Homo sapiens: one gene and its partner. The protein of the gene in region 2 purifies or fractionates together with the protein of the main gene of each other region. This does not show direct contact. Each region holds a gene or a part of one and is shown on either strand. Other genes may lie near its edges.

Region 1 (9,167 bases), on a different chromosome or scaffold from region 2:
CAAAACAAAAAAAATGAATGAATGCATGAGTGAGTAAAGGAAGACTGGAGACATGCTCTGCTCTCCGAGGAGCAACACATCCTGAGACCATTGTTAGCCATCGCTGACGATCACATAAAAAGGTGGAAGATTAAAGCAGGAATTACAGGTTCAAAAAAGACTTTTTTCCTACTAAGCCTCCATGAAAGCAGCTCGTGCTTCCTTCTCTGATGCCTGCATGGAAGTCATGGGCATTTGTAAACTTGTCCTACTTGGAGGAATAATTTAGGTTGATGCTTTTCTAGTCCATTCCCCTTCACAATGCTTTTGTACTCTTGTGTATCCTCATGAAAAAAGATTTGATCAAGCCACACTTCTTGCAGATTTTATCACAAAAACAACAGAGACATTTATATGGAATAGACTTTTTCAAACTACATGCCTTGCCTCCTGCCTGGGGAATCCTCTCAGGTGCAAATAACTTATACCCTCCTGAGCCTCACAACACAGACAGAAACTGCTGACAGGACAGGGCCTAACACCCTTACTCTTTTTTTTTCTCGAGACACAGTTTCACTCTGTCGCCCAGGCTGCAGTGCAGTGGCACAATCTCAGCTCACTACACCTCCGCCTCCCGAGTTCAAGCGATTCTCCCCACTCTGCCTCCCGAGTAGCTGGGATTACAGGCGCATGCCACCATGCCCAGCTAATTTTTGTATTATTAGTAGAGGCGGGGTTTCACCATGTTGCCCGGGCTGGTCTTGAATTCCTGACCTCAAGTGATCCGTCTGCCCCCGCCTCCCAAAGTGCTGGAACTACAGGAGTGAGCCACTGCACCCAGCCCTATCACCCTTCTTCTTTTTTTTTTCTTTTTTGAGATGGAGTTTCCCTCGTCTCCCAGGCTGGAGTGCAGTGGCGCGATCTCGGCTCACTGCAACCCCCGCCTCCTGGGTTCAAGTGACTCTCCTGCCTCAGCCTTCCGAGTACCTGGGATTACAGGCACACGCCACCATGCCCAGGAAATTTTTGTATTTTTTGTAGAGACGGGGTTTCACCATGTTGGCCAGGCTGGTCTCAAACTCCTGACCTCAGGTAATCTGCCCACCTTGGCCTCCCAAATGCTGGGATTACAGGCATGAGTCATCACACCTGGCCCTATCACCCTTATTCTTTTTTTTTTTTTTTTTTTTGAGACAGACTTTAGCTCTTATTGCCCAGGCTGGAGTGCAATGGCACAATCTCGGCTCACCACAATCTCCACCTTTCAGGTTCAAGCGATTATCCTGCCTCAGCCTCTCAAGTAGCTAGCATCACAGGCATGCACCACCATGCCTGGCTAATTTCGCATTTTTAGTAAAGGCGGAGTTTCTACATGTTGGTCAGCCTGGTCTCGAACTTCCAATCTCAGGTGAACTGCCCGGCTCGGCCTCCCAAAATGTTGGGATTATAGGCATGAGCCACTGTGCTCAGCACCCTTATTCTTAAGTTAGTTTGGTTCTCTAAGGTTCCCAGGGCTGGCAGCCTCACTGAAGTAGAAATCTTTGTATTGTTCCTACCCAAAGACTGGTTTTTCTTTTCTTTCTTTCTTTCTTTTAGAAACAGGGTCTTGCTCTGTCACCCAGGCTGGAGTGCAGTGGTGAAATTGTAGCTCACTGCAGCCTCAAACTCCTGGGCTCAAGTGATCCTCCTGCCTCAGCCTCCCGAGTAGCAAGGACTACAGATGCATGTCACTAACCTGGCTAATTTTTTTTTTTTAATTTTTTGTAGAGATGGGGTCTCACTATGCTGCCCAGATAGTCTCGAACTCCTGGTTTTAAGTGATCCTCCCCTTAAGGGCTGGTTTTCAATCTGTCGGTAACTGGCTATTACAAAACAACCCAGGCAGCAGGATGAGTAGCAACTTGCTGGCCACAGGTCTACTTACAGGCACTTTCCTGCCTCCCTATGAAGGTTGTGAGTATAAATCTTGGCTGGATGCAGTGGTTCGTGCCTGTTAACCCCAGCACTTTGGGAGGCTGAGGCAGGCGGATCACTTGAGTCCAGGAATTTGAGACCAGCCTGGCCAACAAGGCAAAACCCCATCTTTAGAAGATATACAAAAAATTAGCTGGGTGTGGTGGTGCATGCCTGTAGTCCCAGCTACTTGGGAGTCTGAAGTGGGAGGACTGCTTGAGCCTGGGAGGTGGAGCACAGAGGTGGAGTGCAGTGAGCCGAGATCGCATCACTGCACTCCAGTCTGGAAGACAGAGTGAGACCCTGTCTCAAAAACAAACAAACAAAACTATGTATTCACAGCATACAGCATGATGTTTTAAATGTATGTATATACTACAAAATGATTAAGTCGAGCTAATTAACAGAATTTTTCATAAAGCCATTGCTGTGATAACTAATAGCTAATATTATAGAATATTTTAAATATTTTATAGAATATGCATTAAAATATTTTAATACTTCAAGTTTATTATAAATTTTAAATAGCAATATCTTAATATTACCATTTTAAGTTATTATATTTGATATGTTAATAGTATTACATACTAATATTTAATAATATTTTAATAGTATTTTTAAATAACATCTTCATTTTACTATTCAGCTCTTTTCGTAACAGCTCCTATTTACTGAGCACTTACTATGTGCTGCCAGGCACTACGGAAAGCGCTTCACCTTCTCATCCCAGGGAGTTCCTGCAGCGACCTTGTAAGGTTGCTGCCCTTATTCCTGCTTTAGAGATGAGGAAACTCGAGTGTCAAGTTACACGCCCAAGCTGCCCTGGGACACTGCTTGTGAACCCAGGAGAGTGATTCCAAGGTTGCAGCCCTTAGAACAATGATGGCTGCCTGGTCCTGTGCCCATCTGTTGGGTGGCCCTGGTCTCTCTGTGGTGCTTCATTACACCATCTCCTCACCCATCAGCACCTTAACTCCAGCTGAGCCCTCAGGTTTCTTCAGATGGACTCGTGCTCCAGCCCCTCAGAGGGCACATCCCTGCTGCCTGCCTTCCCCAAACGTACCCATGATCCTGCGAATGGGGTCATCGGGACTGGCCACGGCCTGGATCTGGCCCTTGAGCACGGTCTCCTTGTCCGTGGTGAAGGGAGAGGACCCACACAGGGAGAGGCAGCTGCTCACCTCCAGGCACACCTTCTCCCCGATGGTAGTGAGGACGTCCTTCAGATGGAAGGAGCTGGGGCAGAGGAGGGGAGAAAGGGCCTATAAGTAAAATACACCTCTAACCAGCTCCAACCGCCCACACCCGGGTGAGAATGACGGCACCAATAACTGGATTTGTGTGTTCAAGGGACAATTTGAGACTCTTTTCCCTGCCACCTTACCTCTCAGGCTGTGCATACCTGACCAGGGGGACTTTCTTTCTCTCCCTCTGCTAGAAAGGACAGTGGGAAGGGCAGGGGCTCAGAGTATACCAGGACCAACGACCCAAAGCACAACTTCCTGCTAGCCTCTGTGTGATAAAATCAGCCTGGAATGACCTCAGAATATCTTGATATACCTCTGGAGGAATACACAAGAAAGCAGGCATTTGGTAGCTGTGGGACAAGAGGGAGAGAGAAACTCTTCATTGGATGCCCTTTTGTACCTTTTGATTTTTGAAACATACACATGTATTAACTAATTTTAAAAGAATAAAGAGGCCGGGCTCAGTGGCTCACGCCTATAATCCCAGAACTTTGGGAGGCCAAGGCAGATGGATCAGGAGTTCTAGGTCAGGAGTTCAAGACCAGCCTGGCCAACATGGTGAAACCCCATCTCTACTAAAAATACAAAAAGATTAGCTGGGCATGGTGATAGGTGCCTGTAATCCCAGCTACTCAGGAGACTGTGGTAGGAGAATCACTTGAATCCAGGAAGTGGACGCCGAGATCACGTCATTGCACTCCAGCCTGGGCAACAAGAGTGAAACTCCATCACAAAAAAATAAAAAAATATATAAAAATTAAAAAATTTTTAAAAAATAAAAGAATAACGAAAAGTGAAATCCTAAAGTTAAAAAAAAAGAGTACCTGGATACCCTGGGTCCCCCAGGCTCTCCCAGGGTGCCTGTGGGGAGCCCCCATGCTGGCAGGCATGCTGTGAGAAGGTAACTGCCTCTGTTGTGGGTCTAGATCCTTTGTATGTAGAATTACTGGGGGGCATGGGAGCAAGCCCTGGCACTCACCATTGGCACCAGCTCTGTGCCCACCCCTGGAGGACCAGGGAGGATATGGGAGTGCAAGGCTGGGCTCCCAAGAAAGCACTGACCTGGATCCCACCCTCAGCGGGAGCTTTGACAGAGTAGTTCTCCAGGCAGGGGACCTAGGTGACAGCCCAGAGCTGTACCTGTGCAAAGGCCTCAGGCTAGGCCCTCAGCTGAGCAAACAAGTTTCCTGGCCTCTCAGCAAACTAGTTTGACTGTCAAAACTGTTGAGGCCCTAGTCACAACTTACGGACACGCCCCACACTGCACTGAACACAGCCATGCTTTGTGAAAATTCAGCAGTAAAATTCCTCCATTTTGTAAGGATGAGAATGTTTAGGGGGTACTTCCCTTGAAGAAGTCTCTGAATTGGACCTTGTTAGATAGAGCATTTACTTAGAACCACTCAAAGATATTCTATAGGCTGGAAACCATAGAAGTCACCCAACATGACTCCATGGTAGGAGCGGTCACTGAAGCCTGCACGCGTGCAGATGCGGACTCGTGCTGGGTAAGAAAATGATGCATTACACTGAGCACAGAACGCCTACAGGGAACAAGCAAGGGCAGAACACTTCAACCACATACATGCAGCTCTGCAGGAATATAGCTGGTTTCTCTCATGACCTTCCTCTAGGGCTCTGCTTTTCACTGTTAGTCGGTTATGAAAGCAATTCAGTGGGTAGCAACCAATTTTTTTTTTTAATGGAATAAGAATAGAGTAGAAACAATCAGGCTGCATTAAACACAGTTAGGGTCAGTTCCAGTTTGAGAAGTTTTCGTTTCTGTTACACGTGTGTTAAGTGTGTACTAGGTCACAATGGAAAATGAATTTCTTACTGCAGGTCCTAGTCACAAACATTTTTGTCCCAATTAATGTCTCTGGGTTCCAGTTTCTTCATAAGCTCCAGTAAGAGTTTAATACATTTGAATGGCTTTGGGAGAGGAATAAAGCACTCAACAAACAAACACAAGAACCTTGGAGGTCAGGAGACAAAGACAACCCCATTAAAGAAGGAAGGGGTCAGACAGCATCCTGCTCCCTGCGTAGGGAGAACAAATGAGTTGATGGCACTCAACACCGAGCCAGGCCCCGGGAGGAGCATGCTAACAGGGAATGGAGGGCCGCGGGACCTCTAAGCCCGGGATCTCCAATTCCTCAAGGCAAGCAACCATTGGTACCAGCGCTCCCCACCCTGCTCATGGCTTACCCCCCAGCCCGAGCCACTTCTTCTCTCGCCTCCTAAATGCTCCCTCACATCTACTATGTGCCCCATGCCAAAATTTAAACTTAAGGGCATAAATCTAATTACGTTCCCCCTCTTGCTTCAAATCCTTCAATGGCTCCCTACTGCTCTTAGGACAATAACCCAACTCCTTGGTGTGGCCTCTAAGGCCCGACAGGCTACTCGGCTAGTCACACACATTTTGAAGCCACTATCCTAGAGCTCTGCTAACCCTGCAGCAGATTCTAACTTTGACCCTATGACCCTAAATAAACTCTGCTGGGGTCTTCGCCAAGTGAACCAACTGAGACAGCAAGGTTTCTTCTCAGTTCCTAGAGAGTGGCCCTGGGCTCTGCCTTACAGTGGGAGACCCCTCTGGGAGACTCCAGTCGGCTCTCTGACATCCACTGCGTCCCATCCACGCATCAAAGTTCCACTTACGGCAGGTGCATATCTGTTAGCAAAATCTTCACAATCATCTTGAGTTTCTCAGCAAAGTCGGCCTGGCTGGAAATTCCTGGCGCTGCCATGCTGAAGGTGACCAGCAACACAGCCCCCAGGATGGTCAGTTGTTCCAGCTGCAACTGGAGCTCGTGGAAGCGAGACTGGTCCATTAAAACTGTCTGTAATGAATAGAAGAGGCCATCGCTGAGCTGCAGGTCCAGGTTGGCCAGCAGAGGGCGGGAGCGCCACAGCCCCCACACCTGCCTCTGCAGCTTCCCTCAGGGTTTGCGCTAGTGTGTCAGAGCTTTGAGGGAGTCTGGTGTGAAATAACCCCTCTATCTCAGAGCCGTTCCTCCTGAGCAAGGATGCAGTATAGCGCCCTCACTAAGAACACAGACAGGCCTGGGTGTAAAGCCAGGCTCCGTGCTTAATACCATGACCTCCCCGGCTGGCCGCGGTGGCTCACGCCTGTAATCCCAGCGCTTTGGGAGGCCGAGGTGGGCAGATCACCTGAGGTCAGGAGTTCAAGACCAGCCTGACCAACATGGTAAAACCCCATCTCTACTAAAAATACAAAACTAGCCGGGTGTGGTGGTGCATGCCTATAATACCAGCTACTCGGGAGGATGAGGCAGGAGAATCTCTTGAACCCAGGAAGCAGAGGTTGCAGTGAGCTGAGATTGCACCTTGGTACTTCAGCCTGGGCAACAAGAGTGAAACTCCTTCTCAAAAAAAAAAATAGCATGACCTCATGCATGCATCCCCAACTTTGTCGGGCCTCTGCAGAATGGGGACTCCCACATCACAGGGCTGTTTTAAAGCTGAAGAAAGATGCTACATATAAAGTGGCTGGCAGAGCCAGCACTCGATAAATAAAAGTTATACTTATTGTTAGGAAGAAAAGTATAATGAGGCACAGACCTAGGGTCACCAACTCCTCCCAGTTTGTCTGGGACTGTCCCAGTTTTCAAATGGAAATTCCCAAGTCCTGTGAACCCTCACTCAGTCCCTAGCAAACTAGGACAGCCAGTCACCCTGTACAGAGCAATGGAAGGCCAGGTGCGATGGTGGGTGCCTGCAGTCCCAGCTACTGGGAGGCTCAGGCAGGAAGATCACTGAGGCCGGAATTTCGAGGCTGCAGTGCACTACGATTATGCCTGTGAATAGCCACTACACTGCAGCTTGGACAACATAGTGAGACTCCATCTTAAAACAACAACAACAAAAATCCCAGAGCAATGGAAGGGAGGACTGCCTTGCAGGCAGAGCCTACACTTATTCATCTTGGTATCCGCTCAGCACCCAGCACAAAGGAAGCTTGTAAGAACTGGCGAGTAAATAAAGAGGAAGAGAAAGAAACAGGAAGCACAGAGAGTAGAAGTGACAGAGAACAATCTAAAGCCTCCCGGAAAGCAAGCACATTCCCATGACTGCCTCCCCCATGTTAAAGACAGTCCTGGGTCCTACCATGCCAGCGCCCCCACCCGTGTGGCTGAGGGAAGGAGAAGGGAAAGGCTGCACAGATGGGAATCTGATCTGAGAGTTTACAGGCTCATCGAATGGACTCTAAGGACCTTTCTTGCTGTCAGAAACTGAGATTTGCCAAGTCAAGACATGAACAATGTGGGTCACAGCCAAGAAGTAAAAACCCTGAGGATTGAGAATCCTCTGCTGATACAAATACAATCCCAAGGACTCATCGTCGGCCTGTTTTCTGACTTCACATGGCTTTGTGGCTTCCCAACAGCAGGACGTGAGTTTAGGATGCAGATTGCCAAGGATCAATTCCTGGAGTAGACAGCTGTCCCCAGGGACCATCACCATCTTCCCCACAGCGTTTCTTTTCTTTTCTTTTCTATTTATTTTTTTTACGAGAGGGTTTATTCATAAGACTGCCAAGTGAGGAGGCTGGAGAACAGGTCTCACATCCCCCTCTCCATAGAGAGGGCTTAGGGATATTTATGGGATGAAGAAGCAGGGGTATCTAAGGCCTGGGGAAGATGATCAGCGGTGGGGAAAAGGGAGGTATTGGATGGTCTCCCACAGCTATTTTTAAATAGACATGTCAGGCTGAGAACTTCCCTCCAGAAGAGAACATGCCACAGTTCAAAGGGAACATTTTCCCATCTCCAATTTGACATTCTCTTTAGAGCTTCCTCCAGCACAAAACGGGGAACTCAGAGGCAAGAGGTGAAACCTTAAGCTCACAACTTCTTGAAAGGAAAAATAAGGAACTTATAAGAAAGATATTTAGAGAAGTATCTGGATCTGAGGCTAGTGATAAGAAGCTCACGTACCCCCCAAAAAGAGAGGGGGAGTCTACATAACAAAACAGCTATTTAGAGAAACACTGGGGGAATCCCTTCTTAGTCATCTTCTTAAAGAGGTCTTGCAGTTAGAAGTATGTATTGTGAAAAACATAAAAAGAAAAAAATATTGTTCAGCATGGAAGGGGAAGAAGTTTCTTTAGATAAAGCTGTGAACAACCACACCTCTGTTGTGGTTTCCATCAAGATGAGTAAAAACAGGAGAAAAATTCAGCAGCACAGACTGGAGCCTCATACATTGCTGGTGGGATGGTAAAATGATGCAGCTGCTTTGGAAATCAGTTTGGCAGTTCCTCAAAATGTTAAACTTAAGAGTCACCATGTAACCCAGCAATTCTAATCCTAGGTACGTAACCAAGAGAGGTAAAAACATATGTCCATGCAAAAACTTGTACTGGAATATTCACAGAAGCATAATTTATAATAACAACCCAAATGTTTGTCAACTGATGAATGAATAAACAAAATGTGGTACATCCATACAGTAAAATATATTATTCAGCCTAAAAAAGAAAGGAGGGCTGGGCATGGTAGCTCATGCCTGTAATCCCAACACTGGGAGGCCAAGGAGGGAGGACCACTTGAGGCCAGGAGTTTAAGATCAGCCTGAGTAACATAGCGAGACCCCTGTCTCCACAAAAAACACACTTAAAAATTAGCTGGGGGTGGTGGTACACTCTTGTAGTCCTAGCTACCCAGGAGGCTGAGGCAGGAGGATCACTTGGGCCCTGAAGTTCAAAGTTACAGTGAGCTGTCGTACCACCTAGCCTGAGCAATTCAATGAGACCCTGTCTCTAAAATTTAAAAAAATTTTAAAAAACCCAGAAAGGGAACACTGACACATACTACAACATAAATGAACCTTGAAGACATTATGCTAAGTAAAATAAGCCAGACCCAAAAGGACAAAGATTGTATAATTCCACTCATATTAAGTACCCGGATTAGTCCAATTCACAGAGACTCAAAGTAGAATGGTGGCTGCCAGGGGCCA
Region 2 (9,789 bases):
GGTTAGACTTCAGCTAGTCAATAGCAGGAATCTTTAAAGATACCTGAGCAAAAAGGCAGATGAGAGGATAAGGTTAAATGCATGAAGTAATGATTTAGAAAGATAGCCATGGCCATGGTATTATATAAGTGGATTTGAAAGTAAAAGAAATTAGAGGCAGAAAGTCAGATTACTGCAATAGTTCAAGTAAGTATGCTCTTTCATTTCATGCCATTTGCTATAATCAAATTTTAGGAAAAGTGGCTTAGGGAATGAAAGGTTGCACAGGGGCCCTGAGAAGTAGTATTACGTTGTACTACCCTATAGCAGTAACAGATAGGATACCAAAGAGTCAATGAGGAGGGAGCAAAGGTCAATCACATTTCACTGAAGGATGGGGGTTGTACAATCTCTAGGGCTCATACCCACTACTTCTTCCATCTGCTGTAGGGTTTTCTCCATCTCCTTCTGCACATCCTGTTGCTTCCTCCCAGCATCCTCAACACTATGTGTCTCGAAATAGCAGTCTCGAAATGAGTAGAGCTGATCCACGAGTTCCTAAAAAGTATGACAATGGAACCATTAAGTGGAAAGATCACTGGATAGGGAAACTTGAAATTGGCTAGCCATACCAGCTCTTGGTCTAGAAATACCAATTCTCTTTCTCACCTATGAATGGCACAATAGGCAGGTGGACAGGTTTACTAAAATGCCACAAATCATGAGGAAAAGCAGCCAGTACCCCAGGCCAGCTCTCATGGTCCCATGTTGTCCCATGCCAGTGTCTCTATTGTGATGACCATTTTCTCTCCCTGCCTCAGCAGGGCTTCTAATATGACTAAGCACTTCACATACCACAGTCATGAGGAGGGAAACACTGCAACTTAAGATAAACCAAAAGTTAGTAAGATCATTCTATATGGTCCTGGTCCTCAAAGAATAACACTTTGAAATTTACCCTTAAAGTTGGACTTCTCAACTAAAACCATTTTATCCCTGATTTTTCATATGCTGAGATCTGAAAATACAACACAACCTTTGTGAATATAATAAACATGTTAGAGAGTCATTGTTTTCCACCACAAACATACCAATTTGAACTTGGTAACTTTGGTATCTTTGCAGCATTTTGTTCTTTTAAATGCTTATTGTGGTTTTGTTTAGTTTGATTTTTTTGTCAAGTCATCTTCTGGCTGCCTTGGATTTTTTACAAATAAATATTCTCTTTCCTCTTAAATGCCTCTGAGTCTTCCTGTCACACCAGGCAAAGCTTTTCTACTACAGGTCAAGCATCCCTAATGCAAAAATCTGAAATCCTCCAAAATCTGAAACTTTTGAAACGCTGACACCACAAGTAGAAAATTCCACACCTGACACACAGTCAAAATGCGGTCAAAACGTTGTTTCAGGCACAAAATTATTAAAAATATTGTATCAAATTACTTTCAGCCTATGTGTATAAAGTGTAAATGAAACAATTTTTTTTTTTTCTTTTTTAAAAGACAGGGTCACCAGGCGTGGTGGCTCATGCCTGTAATCCTAGCACTTTGGTAGTCCAAGGCAGACGGATCATGAAGAGATCGAAACCATCCTGGCCATCATGGTGAAACCCGGTCTCTACTAAAAATACAAAAATTAGCCAGGCATGGTGGCGCACACCTGTAGTCCCACCTACTCGGGAGGCTGAGGCAGGAGAATCGCTTGAACCTGGGAGGCAGAGGTTGCAGTGAGCCAAGATCATGCCACTGCCCTCCAGCCTGGCAACAGAGCAAGACTCCGTCTCAAAAAAAAAAAAAAAAGAGTCTCGTAGGTTGCCCAGGCTGGTCTCAAACTCCTGATTTCAAGCAATGCTCCCACCTCAGCCTCCCAAAGTGCTGGGACTACAGGCATAAGCCACCAAGTTTCATATTTAGATTTGGGTCCCATCCCCAAGTTATCTCATTATGTATATGCAGATATTCCAAAATTCAAAAAAATCCAAAATCCAAAAAACTTCGAGTCCTAAGCATTTCAGATAACAGATATCCTATTCTTTCCTGAAACTAAATAGATAGCAGCAGAAAGATATAATCACTTCCCTTCGAGTGTAATCAACAATCTTCACAACACATCCTGAATTCATCCACCTGTCTCCATCCCACTATGACCATTCCTGGATTACATCAGCTTCATTACTTGCCTGGACTGCAAGAGCTTCTTAACCAGTCATCTTGTTTCTGTTCTCTCCCATTCTCCTCACTGTAGTGGGAGTGATCTTATAAAAAACGTACATCATATCACAAACCTTCAAATAGTTTCCCATTGCAGACAGAATAAAATCCAAGTCCTTATCATGACCTAGAAGACTGTATGAGCTGACCTACCACCACCCATCCTGACACAAACTTCACCTCTCACCATTCTCTCTCCTACAATACTCAAGCCAGAGTTGCCTTCATGCAGTTTCTCAAACCCATCAAGCTCAGCCCACCTGGAAGACCTTATGCCTGGACACTTTCTCCAGATCTCTGCATAACTTATTCCTCATCATCATTTAGATCTTAGGTCAAATATCAATTCCAGAAAGGTTTTCCCTAATTACTCAACCCAAATGAATCCATTCCTTCTCTCCTCTACTGTTATATCATACTCTTATTTTTCTTCATACTTATTTAAAATCATGTGGCCTATCATTAATTGTCTATTGTCTGCCTCCACCACTGAAATGTAAGCTCCAGGATGGAAAGGCCTTTAATCTGTTTTGTTTCGAGCTACACCTGAGCACCAGAACGGGACTTGGGACATGATAGGCTCTAATTCACTACACTTGATTGAATTAACTAACTAACTATCCCTGTTCTAACAAATACATATGTGCTATACTTAATTTAAAATCCTATCCAGAATGAAGGGAACAGACTAGCACCCTCTGCAAATTTTATTGTATTATATCCAAGACCCAGCCTGCAGAGACTCTGATTTTAACAGTTTAGCAGAACTCAAAATTCTACATTTTTAACAGGCACCCCAGATGACTGTAATGAAACTGTCTGTAAAACACACTTTGAGAAATATCCATTTATACACTCTTTTTACACTAAAATGTCTTTAACAATGAAATCAAAGTTTACCACCATCTCCATGAACAGCAACACCATTATCTAATCCTTTTCCTCTTCTCTACTTCACTCCTTTATTCCATTCCTGCACCGACCCCACCCCAAGATAACGGAAGTATCCTCTCCCAAGCTGCTTAGGACATTTACCACAAATGAACCTAGGAAAAGACAATTCTCATAAAAAATTACAACCAATTTCCTTTTGTCCTGCAATCAACATGGCTGCAAATTAAGAGTTTTAGAGAAGGGCTTATTGATTGGTTTTAGTTGTTAAACCAAACATTCAAGAAGTTGTTTGGTTTTATTGTTTGGTTTTGTTTTCCTCTGGACTGAATGTTTTTAGAAACTTATTTTTTCATGGCAAAATCAATACATGTAAGTTGTTAAAATTCAAATAGATACATGTAAAAAAAAGAAAGTACAAAATTACCCCAAAGAACCTCAGTGATAACCACTGATTTGTATACCTTTTCAGATTTTTTTCTGTGCATATACAAACATATATACACAAATAATGTTTCTAATATAGAACCAGAATTGAGAATCTCTGATTTCAGCCAGTCACAGTTAGGGAATAAAATGAAGTTAATCCAAATCAGCTGGAACACTCTAAAAAGTGTTACTATTTTAATGTACCCAAGAACAAAGAAATTTCACCAGTATTTAAATTTGTGCGTTAAACACCTTTAGGCAAGTTACAAGCCTGTCATAGTTCTAATATTTAAGTTACAGGCTGCCTTAGAACGAAGAACTGAGTTCCTGAGGTGTAAGGAAAATCATGGGTTCTTAAAGGCAAAGAGCCAAGCAACTAGTTAACGCCTCCCTACCAAGTCCAAAAGACTAGTCTTACCTGTGGACTATGTGGAGTCTGGACCCCTCTGCATCAGACCCCAAAGTGGAATTACACAGGTTGAAAGAAATCAAAACTGAAATCCTAAGGGGAGTAACCAGGACACTTGCAGTGCAGGTCATTAGCGTGATTGTTGCCAAATTCAAAGCAGAAAGGTGTTAAATGGCTTTTGTAGGGATCAAAACAACATGTGACAGTAGTTCATGCAGATCTGCCACACACATGTATATGCTATTCGCTATGGATGAATCGAGAAAACAACGTCCTCTCTAAAAATGTACATGAACAGTTAGGAGCAACAAATCTTCTTCCATACAGGACTGAAATTAACCGCAGTCAGGTCGGCAGCAGGAGGTTCCAACGAGGCTCCCTGGCTGGCTGCGGCTGCACCCTCGAGGGTTGTTATAGTAACCACACAGACGCACGCAGCTTCGCGTGTGTGCCGAGGAATTCACGGGCAGTACATAAACTGGACTCCCTGCTTCATTCGGAGTAACAAAAACACATACAGAATTTAATCTACGGCCCCACCTGCAATTTCTGCAAGATCGGCTTGACTTCTTCCTCTTCATCAGCCATCATCTCCCGGCCACTCCACCCCCAACTTTATAACCACAGAGACGCACGCCCTCTCTCACCGCGGAACCACAGCGACATCTGGCGTTCTGGAGGCTTTTCTGCCCCAGAAGGGCTTTGCTTCAAACCGACTTAACCATTTATTTCCACAGAGATGCTCTACAATCACTTGTGAGTTCATAAACTTCTTTCTTTCCCAGATCCTGGAAACAAAATGTCCTCAGCTTAATTTCTATATTCTTGTTTCATGTCTTCCTACTTATTTATACTAAGATTATAATACTCCATAAAGAAGAGAGTTTAAGAAGTGCACACCTGTGTTGTTTGAAATTTCGAAAGCCATGTAGTACAATAGCTACTTTACTCAATCTTTTCCAAACTTTGCAGTAATTTTCTATGTATGATTAATTTTATCATTTTAATGCACTATCTTAATAAATACTACACTTGGGATGGCTCATAAAAACCACCATGCTCTACACTAACAATGCCTCCATATTTATAGACAACATCCAGAAGGATATATAAGAAAGGATGACTGTCTCTGCAGAGGGAAACACAGAAACTGGGGAACTGTGGGTGAGCGAAGAAAATTTTCACTGCCTGCCCTTTTGAATTTTCTTGCCATCTATATGTATCACCTATTCAAATATAAACATTTTTAAATAAAAAATTATTTGCTTCTACATAGTCTCTGGAAAGAGACACAAGACACTGGCAAGACTATCGCTTACAAAGAGCAGAAGTGAGTGGCTGGAGCAAAAATGAGTGACCAGGGAACTGGGGTAGACTTTTCACTCTATGCCTTTTTTGTAACTTTAAAGTTTGTACCTTGTGAATATATTAAACTTCTGAATAAATCTTTTAAAGTGTCATGTAATATTCCTGGCAGTTTTGCTTTACTTTTTTAGTTTTAATTACAGCTTCAAGCTGATTCTGTGAAACTAACAAAGAAGTAAAACGTTCAAGGCAGAAATCATGAATATACATAAAATCATTTCCTCAAATCATTTTCCAACATAAAGGAAATAGTTTGTATTGTAACCTATAAAATCTATGTCGTTAGCTGTAAAATAGGGAGGGATGTTTTAAAAATTTTTTTTTGAGATGGAGTCTCACTGTGTAGCCCAGGCTGGAGTGCAATGGCGCCATCTCGGCTCACTGCAACCTCGGCCTCCCAGGTTCAAGCGATTCTCCCGCCTCAGCCTCCCGAGTAGCTGGGGCTACAGGTGCATACCACCACGCCCGGCTAATTTTTTGTATTTTTAGTAGAGACGGGATTTCACCGTGTTAGCCAGGATGGTCTCGATCTCCTGACCTCATGATTCACCCGCCTCAGCTTCCCAAAGTGCTAGGATTACAGGCGTGAGCCACCACACCCGGCCCTAAAACTTTAAAATTTTTCATCCTCTTTCTCAGACATTTTAACTTTGGTGCACACGAGGCTGGGCACGGTGGCTCACACCTGTAATCCCAGCACTTTGGGAGGCCAAGGCGGGCAGATCACTTGAGGTCAGTTCAAGACAAGCCTGGCCAATGTGGTAAAACCCCATCTCTACTAAAGATACAAAAATTAGCCAGGTGTGGTGGCATGCACCTGTAATCCCAGCTACTTGGGAGGCCAAGACAGGAGAACCACTTGAACCCAGGAGGCAGAGGTTGCAGTGAGCCAAGATGCTGCCACTGCACTCCAGCCTGGGCAACACAGCAAGACTCCATCTCAAAAAAACAGTAATAAATAATTTTGGTGCACATTAAGAATAATTTTTAAGAGATTTTATACTCTATATTCCTAGTGAAGGAAACACTACTTGCTTTTCAATTATGTAAAGCAGGGGTATTTAATTGCCTTTCTACAATGACTAAATATATCTTCAAATGATTTCAGTATAATTTTTATTACCTAAAAAACAATGGGATTTGACATTTAGGGTAATTCCATTGTTAACACATCTTAAACCATTAAGAATCAATCCTAAAATTTAAGAGTTAGAAAAGGCTGTAAGGATAACTTAATTCAGTCCTTCATTTTACAGATACAGAGACTAAGTCCAAGAAAGTTCAAACTAAGTAGAAACCAGAACCCAGATCTTCTGCCTCTCCAGCCAGTATGCTTTCAAATCTTTCCTCTAACAGGACATAAAGTTACTGAGAATGTCCTTCAAATTTCTATCATGGCTCTACATTTTAAATAAATAAATGCATAAACAATTTAATTCCCATAATAATAGTCAGAAATACTCACTAAATAAAGGAAAACAATAAATAAATCTTTTATTTTAATACAATCTCGAGATCAATAACACATTGGTAAACTTTCTGCAGAAGTGCATTCCTAAATAAGTAAACCCAAGGCAATAGTTGACAAAAAGGTAAAGAAGTAGCTTTATTTTAAAATACAGTCTTCCTTTGGTATCTTTGGGGGATTGGTTCCAGGAACCCTCATGGATACCAAAATCCTTGGATGTTCATGTCACTTTTATAAAATGGCATGGTATTTGCATATAACCTACAGATTCTCCCAAATACTTTAAATCACCTCTAAATTATTTATAATACCTACAATGTAAATGCTATCCAAATAGTTGTTATATAGTATTGGTTTTTAATTTGTATTTTTTTATATTATTTTTTCTCAAATATTTTTGATATATGGTTGGCTGAATCTGCAGAAGCAGAACCTATGGATACAGAGCACCGACTGTAAATGCCAAAAAAATTAACTTTAAAAAATAACTTCATCAACGTGAGTTATTTTTAAATACAAATAGGGACTGAACATACATGCATCAAATTGTACTCTCGTTCACTGACATAAGCACACCTCCAAACAATACGAAGGTAAATACATAAATATATACAAATAAATACACACACCCAAATAACAAGCTACACATCACCCACCATTTTCCAAGACCAAAATTTTCACATAAACATACTGGCAAATACAGCAAAATATCAGTGTACATTAACATACTTACATATACAGATATGCATAAATACCAGAATTCAAAGCAACATGTAGCATATAACACAGGTACTTAAGGCATAAACACCACAGCTCAGTGAGAAACAGCACAGGGAGAAAGAGTTATCTATTGAAACAAATACTATTGTGACCTTCTCACACTAGGGATGAAAATTCAGCAGTTCACAATGGAATTGAGACTAATAAAATGCTTATGCTTTAAATAATAGAAACAAAGAAACCAGACTCTAAACCACTCCCCACTGCCAATGAGTTTGTTATGTTGATAATGTGAAAACAACTTCAGAGACTTAAAAGCACAGAGAAGCTGGGGAGTCCTATCTAGAAAAAAGATTTGCTACCCTGCCCCTGCCCCTGCCTCTGCCTCTGCCTCTCCCTCTCCCTCTCCCCTCTCCCCTCTCCCCTCTCCCCTCTCCCCTCTCCCTCTCGGTCTCCCTCTCCCTCTCTTTCCACTGTCTCCCTCTGATGCCGAGCCGAAACTGGACTGTACTGCTGCCATCTCGGTTCACTGCAACCTCCCTGCCTGATTCTCCTGCCTCAGCCTGCCGAGGGCCTGCGATTGCAGGCGCGCGCCACCACGCCTGACTGGTTTTCGTACTTTTTTGGTGGAGACGGGGTTTCACTGTGTTGGCCGGGCTGGTCTCCAGCTCCTAACCGCGAGTGATCCGCCAGCCTTGGCCTCCCGAGGTGCCGGGATTGCAGACGGAGTCTGGTTCACTCAGTGCTCAATGGTGCCCAGGCTGGAGTGCAGTGGCATGATCTCAGCTCGCTACAACCTCCATCTCCCAGCCGCCTGCCTTGGCCTCCCAAAGTGCCGAGATTGCAGCCTCTGCCCGGCCGCCACCCCGTCTGGGAAGTGAGGAGCGTCTCTGCCTGGCCGCCCATCGTCTGGGACGTGAGGAGCCCCTCTGCCTGGCTGCCCAGTCTGGAAAGTGAGGAGCGTCTCTGACCGGCCGCCATCCCATCTAGGAAGTGAGGAGCGCCTCTTCCTGGCAGCCATCCCGTCTGGGAAGTGAGGAGCGTCTCTGCCCGGCCGCCCATCGTCTGAGATGTGGGGAGCGCCTCTGCCCCGCCGCCCCGTCTGGGAGGTGAGGAGCGTCTCTGCCCAGCCGCCCCGTCTGAGAAGTGAGGAGACCCTCCGCCCAGCATCCGCCCCATCTGAGAAGTGAGGAGCCCCTCCGCCCGGCAGCCACCCCGTCTGGGAAGTGAGGAGCGTCTCCGCCCGGCAGCCGCCCCGTCCGGGAGGGAGGTGGGGGAGTCAGCCCCCCACCCGGCCAGACGCCCCGTCCGGGAGGTGAGGGGCGCCTCTGCCCAGCCGCCCCTACTGGGAAGTGAGGAGCCCCTCTGCCTGGCCAGCCACCCCGTCCAGGAGGGAGGTGGGGGAGTCAGCCCCCCGCCCGGCCAGCCGCCCCGTCCGGGAGGGAGGTGGGGGGGTCAGCCCCCCACCCGGCCAGCCGCCCCGTCCGGGAGGTGAGGGGCGCCTCTGCCCGGCCGCCCCTACTGGGAAGTGAGGAGCCCCTCTGCCCAGCCAGCCGCCCCGTCCGGGAGGGAGGTGGGGGGGTCAGCCCCCCGCCCGGCCAGCTGCCCCGTCCAGGAGGTGAGGGGCGCCTCTGCCCAGCCGCCCCTACTGGGAAGTGAGGAGCCCCTCTGCCCAGCCAGCCGCCCCGTCCGGGAGGGAGGTGGGGGGGCCAGCCCCCCGCCCGGCCAGCCGCCCCGTCCGGGAGGGAGGTGGGGGGGTCAGCCCCCCGCCCGGCCAGCCGCCCCGTCCGGGAGGTGAGGGGCGACTCTGCCCGGCCACCCCTACTAGGAAGTGAGGAGCCCCTCTGCCCAGCCACCACCTCGTCTGGGAGGTGTACCCAACAGCTCTTTGAGAACGGGCCGGGATGACAATGGCGGTTTTGTGGAATAGAAAGGGGGGAAATGTGGGGAAAAGATAGAGAAATCGGATGGTTGCCGTGTCTGTGTAGAAAGAAGTAGACATGGGAGACTTTTCATTTTGTTCTGTACTAAGATAAATTCTTCTGCCTTGGGATCCTGTTGATCGGTGACCTTACCCCCAACCCTGTGCCCTCTGAAACATGTGCTGTGTCCACTCAGGGTTAAATGGATTAAGGGCGGTGCAAGATGTGCTTTGTTAAACAGATGCTTGAAGGCAGCATGCTCGTTAAGAATCATCACCACTCCCTAATCTCAAGTACCCAGGGACACAAACACTGCGGAAGGCTGCAGGGTCCTCTGCCTAGGAAAACCAGAGACCTTTGTTCACTTGTTTATCTGCCAACCTTCCCTCCACTATT

What was found.
Region 1: the proteins of TTC5 (region 2) and TCP11L1 purify together in Homo sapiens (affinity purification with mass spectrometry; 2 studies listed by BioGRID and IntAct, with this or other methods). This does not show direct contact.

What each region holds. Positions count from the first base shown.
Region 1 is NC_000011.10:33,062,688-33,071,854, reverse strand, and holds part of TCP11L1 (T-complex protein 11-like protein 1), read right to left. Parts: intron 6,026-9,167; coding exon 5,844-6,025; intron 3,169-5,843; coding exon 2,996-3,168; intron 1-2,995.
Region 2 is NC_000014.9:20,301,429-20,311,217, forward strand, and holds the start of TTC5 (tetratricopeptide repeat protein 5), read right to left. Parts: upstream 4,524-9,789; 5' UTR 4,510-4,523; coding exon 4,459-4,509; intron 538-4,458; coding exon 405-537; intron 1-404. UniProt on the Homo sapiens protein: Cofactor involved in the regulation of various cellular mechanisms such as actin regulation, autophagy, chromatin regulation and DNA repair.